Linked DNA regions of Homo sapiens: region 2 is linked to region 1. Evidence: fine-mapped expression QTL. A gene starts in region 1. The other region holds a variant in brackets. All regions are shown on one strand. Distances are between the middles of the regions. Region 1 holds the start of MRPS35 (mitochondrial ribosomal protein S35). Region 2 overlaps PPFIBP1 (PPFIB scaffold protein 1).

The links.
Region 2: its variant is fine-mapped to the expression of MRPS35 in fibroblasts (GTEx, PIP above 0.99).

What each region holds. Positions count from the first base shown.
Region 1 is chr12:27,706,247-27,715,887 of GRCh38, forward strand. It overlaps MRPS35 (mitochondrial ribosomal protein S35), which reads left to right and starts at 4,586. Exons shown (of 8, transcript NM_021821.4): 1 at 4,586-4,709; 2 at 8,534-8,574. The coding sequence starts at 4,598. It overlaps MRPS35-DT (MRPS35 divergent transcript), which reads right to left and starts at 4,501. Exons shown (of 5, transcript XR_001749448.2): 1 at 4,417-4,501. RefSeq lists enhancers at 4,017-4,096, 4,127-4,206, 4,217-5,006.
Region 2 is chr12:27,678,324-27,687,964 of GRCh38, forward strand. It overlaps PPFIBP1 (PPFIB scaffold protein 1), which reads left to right. Exons shown (of 30, transcript NM_003622.4): 20 at 1,166-1,316; 21 at 1,610-1,738; 22 at 3,223-3,373; 23 at 4,064-4,175; 24 at 4,292-4,380; 25 at 9,062-9,184. Among named protein-coding and RNA genes, the nearest start is that of REP15, 13 kb to the right of the region's middle. The variant C/T (reference allele first, on the strand shown) is at 5,033.

The DNA of each region.
Region 1 (9,641 bases):
ATATTTGCATATTGTCTACCATACTTGTGAATAGACATACTTTGTTCACCTACTATAAAGCAAGTTAGTTTTGAAGGCCGGGTGTGGTGGTTCCCGCCTATAATCCTAGCACTTTGGGAGGCCGAGGCGGGCGGATCACTTGAGGTCAGGAGTTCAAGACCAGCCTGGCCAACATGGTGAAACCCTGTCTCTACCAAAAACACAAAAATTAGTTGGGCATGGTGGCACATGCCTGTAATCTCAGCTACTTGGGAGGCTGAGGCAGGAGAACGACTTGGACCCCGGAGGTGGAGGTTGCAGTGAGCTGAGATTGTGCAACTGCACTCCAGCCTGGGTGACAGAGCAAGACTCCTTCTCAAAAAAGAGAAAAAAAAAAAAAGAAGTTAGTTTTGATTAAAAGTAGCTTTTTAATACAAAGGATAAACGCTTGAGGTGATGGATACCCCATTTACCCTGATGTGATTATGATACATTTTATGTCTGTATCAATATATATCATATACCCCATAAATATATATACTTCCTATGTATCCATAAAGATAAAAAATTAAAAAGTAGCTTTTATTGAATTAATTCAGGTTTAAATATAATAAAAACCAATTGTAAGACAGCTTAATATTTAAAATTGTTCTACACAGGACCAGCTACATAATTTGTAGGTTCCAGTGCAAACTGAAGATGCAGGACTCCTTGTTAAAAAAAGTATTAAGAATTTTAAGACAGCAACAGCAAAGCATTAGGCCAAGCGCAGGCACGTTGTATGTCTATGAAGCCAGCCTAGCTTCTATGATGTGTTAGATTACATGGTCACAAAGTTTGAAGAAAATATTTTTTTTGTTTGTTTGAGACAGGTCTCACTCTGTCGCCCAGGCTGGAGTGCAGTGGCACTATCTCGGCTTTCTGCAACCTCTGCCTCCTGGGCTCAAGTGATCCTCCCACCTCAGCCTCCCCAGTAGCTGGGACTACAGGCACACATCACCATGCCTGGCTAATTTTTGTATTTTTTGTAGAGACAGGCTCTTGCTATGTTGCCCAGGCTGGGCTTAAACTCCTGAGCTCAAGTGATTCCCCTATCTCAGCCTCCCAAAATGTTGAGAGTACAGGAGTGAGCCACTGCACCCAGCAAAGAAAATATTTTTATCGTGAGTGAATGATTGCACCTCTAAGATCACTGCCAAGTGAAAAATTATGTAATCTTAGTAACCCCTATGTGCAAGATAGTACATGCTTTACTCTTTACACTGCACAAGACAGATATTTTTGCTTGTTGATAGCATTAATAGCATTATGAATGAATTTTTAACTTTTACTATAGAATGAAACTTACTGTACTTGATGCCACGGAAAACAATAAGTATTTTTCTGGCTCCTCTAGCTCTGGTCATCTATCCACTTTAGTCTTAGGGAGAGAGTACAACAAAAGATAGAACGCATAGCAAGGTAGAATGGGGACCTATGTCTTTAATATCTTGCTCAGAAATTAAGAAATATTGTTAGAGTAGGTAGCTAGTCATGAATGAGCAGGGCAGGAGAGGGCTCCCCTTATACACACACCCCCCTCCACACACACACACGCACACCCCAGGAATTTCAGGCGACCATCAGGTGACGGTCAGGTGGTTATTAACTGTCTTTCTAAAACAATAATTGGTTGCAGCCAGCACCAGGGAATAGCATTCTCCCAATAGATACAAAAAACCTGAAACTAGTGATCAGCAACTTTCCAGTAAGATCTCAGGAGCTGGGTGAGTGTGCGCAAGCGTGCACATTAAGAAGCAAAATGGCAGAATTTAACTGGTATTTGATCTTCTAGGGACGTGCAACTGCTAATGGAAGAATGCCTCAAGTAAGCATGTATACGACTCCAATAAACACACTATGCATGCTCCCCTCCCAAGTCCTGGCAAGCCACTGTGCATGCAGACAGCCCACCCCAAGGGAAAAATCAGGGGAGAAGGGACATAGACCCCAGAAGTATGCCAACGTATAAAACCCTAAGTCAAAGGTCAAATGGGGTACTTGACTTTCAAGTCGCCCACTTGGCCCTCTTCCCAGTGTATTTCCTTCCTTTTGTTCCTGCTGTGAAGCTTTTTAATAAACTTTCACTCCTGCTCTAAAAGTCGCTTCTGTCTCTCCTTCTGCCTTATGTTCCTCGATCAAATTCTTTCTTCTGAGGAGGCAAGAATTGAGGTTGCCGCAGACCTGTACAGATTTGCCGCTGGTAACAGTATGAATATGATCATACTCCTTTTGTCCCTAAATTTCTATGGTATAGGACTTGCACTTTACTAAAATATACAAACTTGCAAGAAAAGGAGGCTGTTGCATTGACCCTACACTTAATGCCAATGCCCACCGTTTATATTTATGCCTTTAATCACGACTGTCGTAAGAAAAATATTATTGCTGTCATTTTCCTTGAAACTGAAACTCAGAAAGATAAGGTAGATTTGCCCAAAATCATAAAGAACCAGAGCCTGGATTCAAACCTCACCTCCATCTGATTAAAAAGGCCATGATTTTGATCTTAAAAATAGTCCGAGGAGAGGAGAGAACTCCATTGGAATATGGGGGCAGAAGGTGATGTGATGTGATGTGTCTACCAGCCAAGGAGTGCCAGCAACCATTAGAAGCTAGGAGGGAGGCATGGAACAGATTCTCCCTCAGAACCTCCAGAAGGAACCAACCCTGCCGACACCTGGATTTTGGACTTTCCAGACTCCAGGATTGTGAGAGAGGAAATTTCTGTTGTTTTAAGTCACCCAGTTTACGGTACTTTGTTCCAATCCCCTAGGAAACTCATACATCATGCTTCTATTTTGGAACAATAACAGGATGGTAAAAGTCCAGAAAAGATGAAGATGATGAATATTACAAATACTTGTCCATCTCATGCTATTTGTCCCCCTCCCATACCTTACTGATTGATGTCCATGGCGCACTGAATGTTCACAGCTAGAATATTCTTGGACACCTGCATACCTCTGCTCTACTGGTTGTATGCTTACCAAGAATCGGTTTTGTTTATTTTTAGTTGTTTTTACTGTTATAATTTTGTCACTTTGAGACAAAATAGGGAAATAGGCCAGACCCATGCCTGTAATCCCGACATTTTGGGAGGCCAAGGCAGGAGGATCACATGAAGCCAAGAGTTTGGGACCAGCCTGGACAACATAGCAAGACCCCCAACTCTACAAAAAACTTAAAAATAGAAAAAATAGGCCAGGTGCAGTAGCTCACGCCTGTAGTCCTATCACTTTTTTGGGAGGCCAAGGCAGGAGGATCGCTTGAACCCAAGAGTTTGAGACCAGCCCTGGCAACACTGTGAGACCTCATCTCTGGAAAAACAATTTTTTTTTTAATTAGCTGGGTGTGGTGGTGCGTGCCTGTAGCCTCAGCTACTTGAAAGGCTGAGGTAGGAGGATCACTTGAGCCTGGGAGGTCAAGGCTGCAGTGGGCCATGGTCCTGCTACCACATTCCAGCCTAGCAACAGAGCAAGACTCTGTCTCAAAAATAATAATAATTAATTAATTAATTAAAATAATTTTTAAAATAAAGAGAAAATAGAGAATTTATTTTATTTTATTTTATTTTTGAGGCGGAGTTTTGCTTTTATTGCCCAGGCTGGAGTGCAATGGCGCGATCTCGGCTCATCGCAACCTCTGCCTCCCGGGTTCATGCGATTCTTCTCTCGAGTAGCTGGGATTACAGGCATGTGCCACCACACCCGGCTAATTTTGTATTTTTAGTAGAGACCAGGTTTCTCCATGTTGGTCAGGCTGGTCCCAAACTCCTGACCTCAGGTGATCCACCCGCCTCGGGATCCCAAAGTGCTGGGATTACAGGCGCGAGCCACCGCGTCCGGCCGAGAATTGTTTTATTAAGGCTTGTATGTTAATTCATCCTACCGTAGAAAATTTAAGAGTGTTCATTAAAAGTTTATTTTCTAGGTCCTGATGAGTTCTGACTTTCTGTAATTCTAAGCTGATCTAACAACAAGCTAACCATATATAGCTAAAAGTTATAGGCTACGTACACGCGGTGTTCACTGTATGCCAACGCTGTACACAAATATTTGTCTATGCTAACTTGTCTGAGATCATACATCCCAGAAGTGGTGAAGTCAAGTTTGAAACCCAAGCACTCTGGCTCGGGATACTGCTTCTCTCCCCTTAGCGCATATTACTGGCATTAGTTGAAGACTTCTTTAATCCAAGTAAATGTAGAAAAGCAACAATTATAAATAACAAGAGTCCCTCGGGTAGACCGCCTGACTCTCGGATCAACTGAGGTTCCACCCAGAGCACGCCCGCCTTCAGTGAGCCGCAACCCCTATCCCTACGGTCTTTATCTGCAATTCTCTACGAACTGATTCACTCGATTTTTAAGGATTTTTTTTGTTTTCTTTTCATTACTTCTTTCAGTTTGGGGGAATCTTCCTGCACATTTGACTCGGCTCTGAGTGCGCAGACCAACGTGTTTCCTCTTTCTCCAGCCTAGGGCGGTGCCAGCCCAGGGAGCCTGCGCTTAGCGGCCCCAGGCCCGCCCCTGACACTGAACGCCGCTTGTCCCCTCCGGCTTGCCGTCCTCGCAGCCATGGCGGCCGCCGCGCTCCCAGCATGGCTGTCTCTGCAGTCGAGGGCAAGGACTCTGCGTGCATTCTCCACTGCCGTCTACTCGGCCACTCCGGTCCCGACACCTAGCCTGCGTGAGTGTCTGTCTCGTCTTCTCTGGGCTTTGGGGGAGGTGCAAGAGCGGAATACCGGCCTCATGAAGGGTGCCGCGGTGGCTGAGCCAGCGCCGCCCGGGGGAGGCCAGTGCGTCCGCTGCCAGGCCCGTCTGGTAGGAAAACCATGGACGTGGGTCTGTGCTCTGCACCCGCGTTGCCCGGCTTCTAGCCGCCTGTTTCTGCCCTGGGTGCTCTGGGAGTTTGCTCAGAAAGCTTACATCCCCCTTCCCCGTGACCTGCTCCTGTGTTGCCCCCGTCCACAGCCCCTGGCACAGGTTACTGGTGCTGTGTTGTTTATCGGGCATCGGCGCTGTTGAACCATGGATTTCCCCAAACATTAAGAGAGTCATACGGCTGTGCTAGGACAAATTGCTGCTCTGAATTCCAGGCCACCAAATGGGCGGCCTTCATTCAACAGGCGTTGATGACCTCCATTTAACAGAGATTGTAGGGATGCTTGATAGCGTGCTTACCCCGGAGGACTCTAGTGGAAAATACAGATTTATTAGCGGAGAAGTGCTATGTAGGGTGAGAGGCGCTGTGATAGAAGTGTGGCTAGAATGACGGGAGCGTTGAGGAGGAGCTGGCGTGAGTCTAATCAATAGGCGGATCCTACCTGTGCTACTTCCTGTTATATCTCTAATTTACTCTCCTCATACTACCAACTATCTAGTTCAGGTGACCATCTCATTTCTACAAGTTTTTTTTCCGTTTCCTGTTTCCCCTCTTGCTCTCCTACATTGAATTCTCAAAACAGCCAAATGAGGTTTTCAAAATTTAGATCTTGTCTTGCTGCTCTCATGTTCAAGATCTACAAATGGTTTCCCATTGTTTTCAGATAAACTATAAATACATTAATCCTTCATACTGGCTCTTCATAGGTCTAATAATTGTCTATTTTTAAATTTTCATTCTTAAATTCTTGGAATACTTAACTCCTATTGTATACCATGCAGTGTTCTAGACACTCACCGGAGATACGGCAAGGTGGGGAAGTCAATAGTATAAACAACCAAACAACTAAATAAGATGTCAGATAGGGTTTAATGCTTTGAAGAAAAATAAAGTAGAGTATTGAGAATGATGGATTTGGGGGGAGTAGTGGCCACAGGATGGTCAGGAAAGATCTTTCTGAGGAAGTGACATTTGAACAGGGCCCCAAGCCATGCAGAGATATGGGGAAAGAGCCTTTGGGGTATGGGGAACTATAAGTGCAAAGGCCAAAAGTTGAGAACAATCTGAGGGGTGTGATCAAGGAACGGGAAGAAGGACAATGTGGCAGGAGCTAAGTGTGAGTAGAGGAGAGAGTGGTAGTATAAGACGTCAGAGAGTTAGTTAAGTAATAATCTGATCTCTCAAGAGTTTGTAGACATTTCATTTGGATTTTTGGCTTGGGTTTTATATTGAAAGGCTTGGAACAGGGAACTGATATAATGTGATTTACGTTTTTAAAAGATCACTGGCTGCTTTACTGGGGTAAGAGTGGAAGCCAAAGATCTGTTTGGAGGCTGTTGCAGTAATCCAAATGAGGTGATGGTGACTTGGATTAAAGTAATAGTGGAGAAGGAGGTGTGGTTGTATTTGCGATATATTTTGAAGGTAAAGTTCATAGGATTTACTGATGGATTTGATGTGGGGCTTGAGGACAAGTCTCAAAAAAATCCTGTTACATTTTTGTTCTGAGCAATTGGATGAATGATGATTCCATGTACACGAATTGGGAAGACTGGAAGAAGAAAATCAAAAGCCCTGCCAAGGGGCTGAGTGTGGGGGCTCATTCCTGTAATCCCAGCACTGTGGGAGGTCGAGGCCTGCGGATCCCTTGAGCCCAGGAGTTTGAGACCAGCCTGGGCAACATGGCGGAACCTCGTCTCTATTGAAAATACAAGAAATTAGCCAGACGTGGTGGCCCATGCCTGTAGTTCCAGCTACTCCAGAGGCTGAAGTGGGAGAATCACCTGAGCCTGGGAAGTCGATTACAGTGAGCCGTAATCGCACCACTGCCCTCCGGCCTGGGTGACGGGAGTGAGACCCTATCTCAAAAGAAAAAAAGTTCTGCTAAGGATGCATTATAGTTAAGACGCCTGTTAAGTGCCTTCAGCCTCTTTTCTCTCTGTCTCTCTCTGTTCTGTTCTTAAATTTCAGCCATATTGAATTTGTTCACTTTGATTTTCCATGTGCTCTCACTCTGTCAAAACACTTTTTCTCACCTGCTTGTCTTCATGGCTACGTCCTGCTCATCTTTCAGGTTTTAGCTTAAAGTTCACTTTCTCAGGGAGATTTTCCCCAACTGATTAGAGTTTTCCAGAGAGACAGAACGTAGATGTAGGATAGGATAGATGTAGATGTAGATATATAGACATATGATGGGATTTTTTAGGGGAATTGACTCACCCCACAATAGGCTGTCTGCAAGCTGGAAGCCCATGTCAGTCCAAGTTCAGAAACCTCAGAACCACAGAAGCCATGTAATTTTCAGGCCAAGGCTGAAGGCCTAAGAACTCAGGGGGCTGCGTGTACAAGTTCCTGGAGTCCAAAGGCTGGAGCACCTGGAGTTCTGATGTCCAAGGGCAGGGGAAGAGTGTCCCAGGTCCAGAAGAGAGAGAGAGAGAATATATTCTTCTTTCATCTGCCTTTTTGTTCTTTCTGTGCCCTCAGCTGATTGGATGATGCCCACCCACATTGAGAGCAGGTATTCCTCACTCAGTCCACTGACTCAAATGCCTGTCTCTCCTGGAAACATCCCCACAGACATGCCCAGAAATAATGCTTTACCACATGTCTATGTATTCCTCAATCCAGTCAAATTGACACAAAGTTAACTATCATGGCTGGGCACAGTGACTCACCCCTGTAATCCCAGCACTTTGGGAGGCTGAGGTGGGTGGATCGCTGGAGCTCAAGAGCTTGAGACCAGCCTGGCAACATGGCGAAACACCGTCTCTACAAGAATTAGCCGGGTGTGCTCATGTCTTTAGTCCTAGCTACTTGGGGTGCTGAGGTAGAAGGATTGGCTTGAACCTGGTAGTTCGAGGCTGCAGTAAGCCGAGATTGCACCACTGCAATCCAGCCTGGGCGAGAGTGAGATGACCTTGTCTCAAAAAAAAAAAAAAAAAAAGAAAGAAAGAGAAAAAAGAAAAAATTCACCGTCATACAAACTAATTGACTAGGTTTCGTTCCCTGCTATATGTGTTCATAATATTTATCACTGTTTATTGAAATTATTTGTTAAAAAGTTGTCTTACTTGACAGACTCTGTAAGAGTCATTTTTTAGATAATGAATTCACTGTATCTGCAATTCAAATAACTGTAGAATTTTCCTTACTGGGGCTAGGCACAGTGGCTCACACCTGCCCACCGCACTTTGGGAGACTGAGGCAGGCGGATCACTTCAGGTCAGCAGTTTGAGACCAGCCTGGCCAACATGGTGAAACTCTATCTCTACTAAAAATACAAAAATTAGCCAGGTGTGGTGGGGTGTACTGGTAGTCGCAGCTACTTGGGAGGCTGAGGCAGGAGAATCACTTGAACTCCGGAGGTAGAGGTTGCAGTGAGCCGAGATCACACCACTGCAATCCAATCTGGGTGATACGCCGAGACTCCCTCTGTTTCCAGTTTTTAGTCTTCATTAAGATGATTTTGGTCCCTGAGCTTACCAAAAAAAAAAAAAAAAAGATTGTTTCATTGTTATGTTACTAAATACCTTAAATTGTGTTAGAATAATGGGATCATGATTGATGTTGAACAACTAACTTGACATGATAAAATTCTCTTTAACTACTGTGTTATCTTTTACGTACAGCGGAAAGAACACCCGGAAATGAAAGGCCACCAAGAAGAAAGGTAAAAAGTTCGTATACTCTACTATCTTAATGGTTTCTGGAGTTCTAAAATGAGGCAGATATTCATTATAAGGCAGAAGGGTGTTACCAGAGAAGACTTCACAAGGTCATGTTTACTGGGTGATTGCCATAGCCCTGGCAGAGGTTAGTCTTTGTTTTTTGTCAGTACCCAGAGAATAGATGATCTTTGAGAGGTTGACTTACTGAGGAACTCCCAGGAAACAGGTGTATAAACCAGAATATGGAACAATTTCTAATGCTATCTTAAGTCCTGCAGCCTGGGACTTATGCATTAATATAACTAGTTTGTTTATTTATTTATTATTATTTATTTGAGATAGAGTTTCCCACTTGTTGCCCAGCTGGAGTGCAGTGGTGCAGTCTTGGCTCACTGGTACCTCTGCCTCCCGGGTTCAAGTGGTTCTCCTGCCTCAGCCTCCCAAGTAGCTGGGACTACAGGCACACACCTCCATGCCTGGCTAATTTTTTGTGTTTTTAGTAGAGAGAGGTTTTCACCATGTTGGTCAGGCTGGTCTTGAATTCCTGACCTCAGGTGATCCACCCGCCTCAGTGCTGGGATTACAGGCGTGAGCTACTGCACCTGGCCTCCCAAAGTGCTGGGATTACAGGCATGAGCCACGGCACCTGGCCGTATTCTAACTAGTTGAGTCTCACCCTGTGGACATTTGGATTCCTTACTTCTATGGAGGAATCTAAACGATAAGGTCAGTTGGTGAGCAATAGTGTCAGAACAAAGACACATTAGTTGGAAGTTAAATGGTATCAAATTACAATCATTAAGAGCAGTCATTTCCTCAGGACTATTACCTGCTTCTAGGATATTGACTACACTGGTTTTGATATTGCGTAGGCGGGGCATGGCTGAATTTTGCCACTATAAACCCTACTTTTGTATGTGGGCCATCCCCTCGTATTTGATGCCATTAAAAATAAATGTTAATGTGATTGACTAAGCTATCAAGTACTAGTTTTTCTCTGGGCCTAGGAGACATATAATTTTTCATTATATATTTATTCAATCAGTTTAACCCTAATTATTTTTTCCTT
Region 2 (9,641 bases), 28 kb before region 1:
TAAAATCAACAGGCACTTACTTTATGTCAAAAGAAAAATTAGGCATATCCAGTTCATTCTTCTCTCAGTGCCTAGGATTTAATAGATTGGAATACATTTCAAAAATAAAGAATTGCTTGAACTGGGTAACTGATTTGATGTAAATGCCAAAGGAGAAGGAGTAAAAGGAAAATGACATAGAGTCTGAGCTAGAGTAACAGGGACAGTATTAATTAATATTAACCAAATATCAAATAAGAACATTTAAGAGACGAGGCCAGGCGTGGTGGCTCACGCCTGTAATCTCAGCACTTTGGGAGGCCGAGGTGGGTGGATCACGAGGTCAGGAGTTCAAGACCAGCCTGGCCAAGATGGTGAAACCCTGTCTCTACTAAAAATACAAAAATTAGCCAGGTGTGGTGGCGGGTGCCTGTAATCCCAGCTACCTGGGACACTGAGGCAGAGAATTGCTTGAACCCAGTAGGCGGAGGTTGCAGTAAGCCGAGATCATGTCACTGCACTCCAGCCTGGGAAACAGAGTGAGACTCTGTCTCAAAAAAAAAAAAAAAAAAAAAAAAACATTTAAGAGAGAAAAAGACTCTCGGGGAAATTGGATGAGTTTGTGAAGTCCCAGATGTCCCGACACACTGAATTGGGAATATCACAGGCATTTAGATACAGAGCCTAGAGAGAGAGATTAGGCCCAGAGATTCTGATCCTCTAGAGGGCATTTAGAATATAATCTTAAAGTGGCATGGGGGAAGAAAAAAAAGCAGGGGTGCTACAGCAAAGACACTATCAGATGACAGATGTAGGAGAGTGGTCATGTCAAGAAGCAAAAGGAGATGATTTTGAAGGATGTAGCAGGTAATCAACAGTACCACGTGCTATGGAAAGATTGGGAATAATTCCATTATGAATTGAAATCACTCAAGGAAAGAATGTGGCAATCCTATCACATTCTTTTAATCTCCAAAGGGCTTGTAATTTTATTAAGTTTACACACAGTAAACTATGGAGCAGAACGTATATGTGTGTTCCATTTCTAATATTTACAAGGTGCTCTTTGTAAGTCACTGATTATAGACCAACAGAAGAATTCTTAACAGTTCTAGAACCAAGAAGATTAACATCATGTTTATTCCATATTTTAAAATTCATTGTCTGCATTCTGCTCTTGGAGTAGCTGAAACAGAAAAAGAGACAGCAGAGCACCTAGATCTGGCTGGTGCTTCTTCTCGGCCAAAAGATTCACAGAGGAACAGTCCCTTCCAGATACCGCCTCCATCTCCAGATTCCAAAAAGAAATCCAGAGGTATCATGAAACTCTTTGGAAAGTAAGTAAAGCAGTAAACAAGTGGAATGGGCCCTGTCTTACATGTTGCTTAAAAGTGGCTGGACATGGGTATGGACTTTGTAAGGCCTTTGTATTCCTCTTATGGAAGGAAGTTTGGATTGTGATGTGGGATTTATTAACTCATTGGGTCTTAGTTAAAGTTTAAATTTAAATGTCTATGTTAACAACACAAAGAGGATTAGTTCCAGTAGGTGCACTAGTTAAAAATGTTCTGATTAACAAGTCTAAGGCCTCCTCAGGTCTAATACTGGCCATGTGTGTTGTCTTCTTTAGACTTAGGAGAAGTCAATCAACTACATTCAACCCAGATGACATGTCTGAGCCTGAATTCAAAAGAGGAGGGACAAGGGCAACCGCGGGGCCCCGATTAGGTTGGTCTCGAGACTTGGGACAGTCTAACAGGTAAGAAGAGCCAACTGATAGACTTTTGCATCTCTACCAAGCATCATAGCCTCATGAGTCCTGCAGTATTAGTACTGTCATTGGGTTAAACAAAGTCATTGCTTAATGCTGTGCCTAATGAAAGGGGCCATCATCTTTAGAGCCGTGCAATTTGTCAATGGTTGATGAACAAACAGAAGGTGAGGGCTGTGCGAACTAGGGGAGAGGCCAGAGCTAAAGTGTCAGCAGCATCTGTGTTAGAATGGCTCTCAGACTTAAATTTTACGTAGATGGTAATTACAAGTACTCTAAAGCATAACTTTGGAAAGATGGGATAGCATAGTGGTTAAGAGTATGTTCTAGAATCAGACCACTTGGATTTGCTTTCTGGCCTTACCACTTTCTACCAGCTGGGTGACCTTGAGCAACAGCTTCCACACCCTGTGCCTCAGTCTCCTCATCATCATAATTAGTACCTACCCCAAAAGCTGACCATGAAGGTTAAATAAGTTAATATGTGTTAAATATTTGGCAGATAATAACTACTCAAGAAACATTAGCATGTAACAGAATCTATGAAAGCACTTAAAGACAAAAATGCTATCAGAATCCTTGTATTTATCAGGACTATATAATATTTTATCCATTAAGATTCTAAGAACTGCTCTGACACTCTTAACCAAAGTTTAGGGCTGGCTTAGAACTACTACATTGACTCACTGTGCATAAGAGGGTGGGGTTGGCAAACATAAAGTACAAGACATTGATACCAAATCTTTTAACAGTATAATAGACTGACTAGAAACCCTTTACATATAGCCCCTCCCATACAGGTGGAACACTGGACATAGGTTACATCAAGGAGGAAACTCTCTTTGGCCTTCTTCAAATACCAAACAGTTTCATTTGCCATATGTTGTCTTTGAACACAGTAGAGCTCCTTGTACTATTTAAAAAAAACCATTCATCTTCCCCTCCGCACCCTGCCCCCACCCCGGAACAAGAACACTATTTGTGTATCTAAGTAAAAGAAAACAGGAATTTTGCTTTGATTGTTTCCTACACTCAGTGACAACATATTGCCCTCTTCTCATTGGTTACCATATGGAAAGAAACCATAATTCTGCTAAAGTTAGTTCAAATTAGACTTAAGTTTCTTTCAGTCCAACTGAGTTTCCTGTTTGGGAATCCAATCTTCAAACAACATTGGTTAAAACTGATACAGTGACTTGTGTTTGTCCAATTTGGTCTTTTTCTGTAGCACTTGTTCTTGCTCTATCACGTTAAATCTTTTGTGGTTTCATTTGAAATGAAGACAGTGGTCTTAGAAGATAACTTTCAACCAGTTGTTCCTCCAATGTATACTAAAAATTAAGCTTTTCATGGTCAAATGTGTATCACCAGGGAATTTCCATGTCTATTGAATGTATAGTTGTTTAAAACTAATGATAAGCCACAGGATTGGCTTTGGATTATTTTTCATGCAATTACTCATTTTCCTGTAGTGACTTGGATATGCCATTTGCCAAGTGGACCAAGGAGCAGGTTTGCAATTGGCTGATGGAACAGGGCTTGGGCTCGTACCTGAATTCTGGCAAGCACTGGATTGCATCTGGCCAAACGCTTTTGCAGGCTTCTCAACAAGATCTAGAGAAGGTGACTGCTTCTCTGTTTTGTTCACACAATGGATACTGAGAAGAAAACAGTATGAATGTAGGGTTGTTTTATAGTCCAGAAAGGGCCATGAGTGAAGCCAGTAAAAACTCTGTAAACAAAAGTTTGGGTTTTCAATTGCTTCATGCTTCTTTTTTCTGGTGGTCTTGGGAGGACCTGGTCTTGATGATTCCTTATGGAACACTTAAGCCATTGGGCATTTTAATGAAAAAGAATTACATAAGCATAATTCAGTTCATATTTCTCGAAATCATTGTTTGGCTTTATCATTGGCCTGTTTTTCTCAGTGTAAGATATGCAATTAACTTCACTTTGCAAAAGAAAAAAAAAAAGCACCCTACAATTTGTGTCTAATTATTTAACATTTCTTCCAAATTATTTAATATTTTGTACAAAATAAGAGTCAAATTCTTTTTATGCATGCTACAGTTCCTAGCTTACAAAGAAAATGAGTCACTAGGGAATGCCTAACACACCCCTAAGATAATTGTGGTGGTCTTGGCTTTTCAGGGACCTTTTGTTCAACAACACTTTACTAGCCCAAGTTGGGATTGTAATTCAGTATTGAATTGGGTCTTTAATGCTAGCTTCATTTTGGAGAAATTTGCATCCTTTGCCAGTGGCACCCAGCCTATACAGATAGAATTATAAAGTCAATGTTTATTGTTTCAGGAACTTGGAATCAAGCATTCACTTCATCGAAAGAAACTCCAGCTAGCACTCCAAGCCCTGGGATCTGAAGAAGAAACCAATCATGGGAAGCTGGATTTCAACTGGGTCACTAGTAAGAAGTTTTTATTCTAACAAAATGAAATAATTATATACATAGTTGCTTTTTCTTTTTAATCACAAGAACAGATGTTTTGTGGCATGGTAGCAACACTGGCCTCTCTCTTTTAGGATGGTTGGATGACATTGGCCTCCCTCAATATAAGACCCAGTTTGATGAAGGACGGGTTGATGGTCGAATGCTACATTACATGACTGTTGTAAGTGACTCACTCCTGGGGTTTGGGGGAGGAAAACTTTTTTTCTCTGAAAAACACAGGAATTGAGTAAGCCAAACACAGTGTTTTCAGTGATTCCACCAGAGTTTGAAGCTGTTGCTTGAACTTGAGGAGAGTGGCAGGCATATTTCCCATGAGGCTGAAGTTGTAGCATTTGGTGATTGTGATTGAACAGGCTTGGGATAATTTGAAACCCCAATGTAAGCTAAGTGAAGCCTAATTTAAACTAAGCTCTCCAGAAGGTTGATTTTATATGTAATACATTCAACAAAGTAAACACTGAAGTGTACACTTTGAATGGGTACATTTTATGGTATGCAAATTATATCTCATAAAGATTTTTTTTGTATTATTTCTTTTGAGATGGAGTCTCGCTCTGTCACCCAGGCTGGAGTGCAATGACGTGATCTCAGCTCACTGTAACCTCTACCTCCCAGGTTCAAGCCATTCTCCTGCCTCAGCCTCCCGAGTAGCTGGGATTACAGGCTCACGCCACCATACCCAGCTAATTTTTTTGTATTTTTAGTAGAGACGGAGTTTCGCCATGTTGGCCAGCTGGTCTCAAACTCCTGACCTCAAGCGACCTGCCTGCCTCGGCCTCCCAAAGTGCTGGAATTATAGGCATGAGTCAACA[C/T]GCCCAGCCTAAAGATATTTTTTAAATAGAATGTAGAATTTTTAAGCCCAAGCTATCTCTAAGTTATGGGTTTCTATGTGCAATGACCATTTGGAAGAGGCCACCCTTTTGACCTGACATCTTCAAGGACTTGTCTTCTCCTTTCCACTCTGGACAACTGTTACCTGAAACCCTATCACCCGTCTCACTTCAGCCTAGTTCTGCTACAGCAGGAGTTACTGGGGTTAAAGGAGGAGGGAGGAAGGCTAGACTTCTACTCTGGTTCCTTCATTATTGTACATTTCTAGCCCTCCAGCCAATGTGTAGGACTATTCCCTGCTTTACAGCAGTGAGAAAGATGGATTCCAGGAGAACTTTGTTTTAGGTTCCATACCACTATTAATGTTCTACTTAAAATTCTCTTTATTTATTTATTTTTATTTTTATTTTTATTTTATTTTATTTTATTTTGAGACGGAGTCTCGCTCTGTCGCCCAGGCTGGAGTGCAGTGGTGCGATCTCGGCTCACTGCAACCTCCCTCTCCTGGGTTCATGCCATTCTCCTGCCTCAGCCTCCCAAGTAGCTGGGACTACAGGCACCTGCCACCATGCCTGGCTAATTTTTTGTATTTTTAATAGAGACGGGGTTTCACCATGTTAGCCAGGATGGTCTCGATCTCCTGACCTCGTTATCCACCCACCTTGGCCTCCCAAAGTGCTGGGATTACAGGCGTGAGCCACCGAGCCTGGCCTTGTTCTACTTAAAATTCTTTTATTTATTTATTTATTTTGGAGACAGAGTCTCACTCTGCTGCCCAGGCTGGAGCGCAGTGGCACAATCTTGGCTCATGGCAACCTCCACCTCCCAGGTTCAAGTGATTCTCCTGCCTCAGCCACCCGAGTAGCTGGGATTACAGGTGCACACCACTGCTCCTGGCTAATTTTTGTGTTTTTGGTGGAGATGGAGTTTCGCCATGTTGGCCAGGCTGGTCTGGAACTTCTGACCTCAGGAGATCCACCTGCCTCGGCCTCCCAAAGTGCTGGGATTACAGGCGTGAGCCACTGTGCCCGGCCTAAAATTCTTTTATTTAAACAGCTTTTTGTGAAGTAGGCTATAGACCTAACTACCCTAAGTATAATCTTTTTCAAGTAAGTAGCAAGTTTTAAACAGCCAACTTAAGTAGGCATTTCTCAATGTCAAAAAAATTTGGAGTTCAGTTCATGGATTTTTCTTCTCTGTCATTGAACCCAAGCCCCTTACCTTGATGAGCACATCACATAAACCTGCGTGAAATAATACTAATATGTGTAGTATGTTGCACATTTGCTATGTGTCAAACATCCTTTTAAGCATTTTGCTCATATTAATACTGGATTCTCAATAACCCTTTTAGTTAATATTACTAATATTATTATAGTGTGTATAATATATATTAAAAAGTTTTTAAAACTTTTTATTTTAAGATAATTTTAGATTTACAGAGGAGTTGCCAAAGCTAGAATTCTGTATACCTTTCACTCAGCTTCCTCTAACGTTAACATCTTACGTAATCATGATTACATTCATCAAAATTAAGAAATTAACGTAGATGTTAATACAATCAACTAAACTGAAGACTATTCACATTTCACCAGTTTTTCCAGTAAGGTCCTCCTTCTGTTCCAGGATCTAATCTAGGACACTACATTAAAACACACATTTTGTGACTTACGACTTCTGGGGTCAAATTTTCCAGGGTCATTTACTCTTTTATAGCCATTTCACATACGCTGCTTGTGATTTTAAGCTTGAATTTGTTCACATATATACTATATAATTATGTAATACTGTATATACATAGTATTATACACACATATGTAATACTGTAGATACATAGAGTATGTATATATATATATACACACACATACACATATATGCATGTTTGTATATATGTGTGTGTGTATCCATATACACACACACACACACTCTGTGTATCTATAGTATTATAATACTATTATTATCCCTACTTTTTTACATGTATAAAGGAAGGAATCGAGAGGTTGGGTAACTTGGTAACCAAGTTTCCACAGTTAGCAATAGAAAGTCATAGAGAGTTTGAACTCAGGCTGTTTCAAGATCCCTGCTTTTAATAGCTCACGATTATGACTAGAACACATTCAGTAAATATTTGCCTCCCTCTCTAAGTGTGAGTATGTTCCCCCTGAGAATGTGAACAAATTCAAGCTTAAAATCACAAGAAGCATCTGTGAAATGGCTATAAAAGAGTAAATGACCCTGGAAAATTTGACCCCAGAAATCCTAAGTCACAAAATATGTGTTTTAATGTGGATTAGATCCTGGAACAGAAGAAGGACCTTACTGGACAAACTGGTGAAATGTGAATAAAGTCTGCAATTTAGTCAATTGTACATTAATTTCTTAGTCTTGATGAATGTAATCATGATTATGTCAGATGTTAACATTAGAGGAGGCTGAGTGAAAGGTATACAGAATTCTATTCTATCTTTGGCAACTCCTCCACAAATTTAAAATTATTTTAAAATAAAAAGTTTTAAAAAAATTGGGAAGAAAATCACTCAGAAAGTCTGTTTTGATATAAAATAAAACTTTCTTTTTAAAATCCTTCGAAGTATAAAGAATTTCAAAAATAATTAACATTTTAATCACACTGTAAACATTGTGCATTCAGATATTTTTTTAAGCTGACAGACTAGTTAGATGAAAAGAGTCCAGACTGAAATGTTTGGAATGGGTGTCTCAATCCTAGATTAAAATAAGTACTCTTTCTAACATGTCTTAAGACACTACTTTTAAGGAATTACTCCAGAAAAACTTCAGGAAATAATTTTTGCCTGGTTAGTAGCCTCAAGGATTTAAACTGATTAATATTTTTATTAAATATTTCTGTAGTAGATTACATTTTTTTCTTTCTTTCATGAGAAGTGTTTTATCAGAAAGGTGTGTCTAAAATGGATGCTTTCCTTGTTTATTTTCTGGGTGTGTTTGGAAGTAGACTGTTGCTTATCTTCATACTGCTCCCAATATCACCTTCTTCTGAAATAATTTGTTTTGGTGTGTTTGGTATATTTGAAAATATTCCCAAGAGCCACAGACTGGTGAAAATTCTTCCTTGAAGGGGTTGATTGGTAATATATATATGTGATACTTATAACTTCATTTTTCTTCTCTCCTTGACTCTGACCAAAACCTTTGCACTGATTGATTATAGTTGTGCCAAAATTGTTCACAATGTCTGCTAGATAAACCATAATAATCTAGAGCTATTCAATAGCAGACAGGTCCTTACTAAAAAATAATTTAGAACTAGAGAATTATTAAGGTCAGGGAATAGTATAATAAGAGCACTGTTCTGATTTTCCCCAAAATTATGATGTGCCTTAGTTCAGAAAACCCAGCCTTGCTAGGAGCGGTGCCTCACGCCTGTAATCCCAGCTTTTTGGGCGGCTGAGGCCGGGGGACTGCTTGAGCCTAGGAGTTTGAGATAGCCTGGGCAGTATAGTGAGATCCTATCTCTCCAAAAAAAAAAAAGATGAAAAAAGAAAGCCAACTCTTGATCATGTTCACCAATGAGCATCATTCGCTCTTCACTATCTGCTGAAAGGAAACAGAGAGGGCAGTTTATCCAAAGCCTAAGTACTTTATCCACCGATAAAGTTCTCAAAACTAAAGAGGAAACAAATAAATTCCCTGTTTGTAGTATGTGCAGATCAAGTCAAAGCAGATCACCTTTTGTAGTGACCCAGCAAGTGCTTTTCTAACTGTGTTTTTCAGAGCCCTGGGGTTCTACAGATCTCAGAGCATCTGGAAGAGAGAGAAACAGGTGGAAGTCAGCTTCATTGGCAAAAAATACTAATCTGGGGTTTGGGGGAAGATTTTGTTCCAAATGGGAAAGTGGGTTCTGACAAGACCTTGGGGCATATTGGTTTGAGGGGCTCTTCTCCTTTTACTCCAGTTTTCTGAGATTCCCTAAGAAAGTCCTCCTGCTACAGGCCAGCACAGTGAGCTCCTCCTTTTGTTCTTTTTTGCAGGATGACTTACTGTCTCTGAAGGTTGTAAGTGTGCTACACCATCTCAGTATCAAAAGGGCCATCCAGGTCCTGAGGATCAATAACTTTGAACCAAACTGTCTACGGAGGCGGCCATCTGATGAGGTAGTGTTTTAAGATTGAGGTTTATAAGCATGCACTTCCCAGGCATGGGACTGTCCATGTGTCGAAACTAAGAGCCATTTTTCTTGGAGCCTGCAGGAAAAGCCTTAAAATCCAGCCTCATTTACTTCTTAGGCTTTTTCTGTATTCCTTCCTTTTCTCTCCATGACGGTTCCCCTTGTGTAACTAAAGCCAAGGGTTCTTTTTCAGTTATGCTTCTTCCTTTTCTTGGGTGTATTTTTTTTTCCTGACTCTAATCAACAGAGATAAATATCACTATAAAGACTTCCTTTTCTGGCCAAGTATAGTGGCCAATGCCTATAATCCCAGCACTTTGGGAGGCCAAGGCAGAAGAATCACTTGAGCCCAGGAGATCAAGACCAGCCTGGGCAACATAGGAAGACCCTGTCTCTACAAAAATAATAATAAATTAGCCAGGCATGGTGGGTGCACGCTGGTG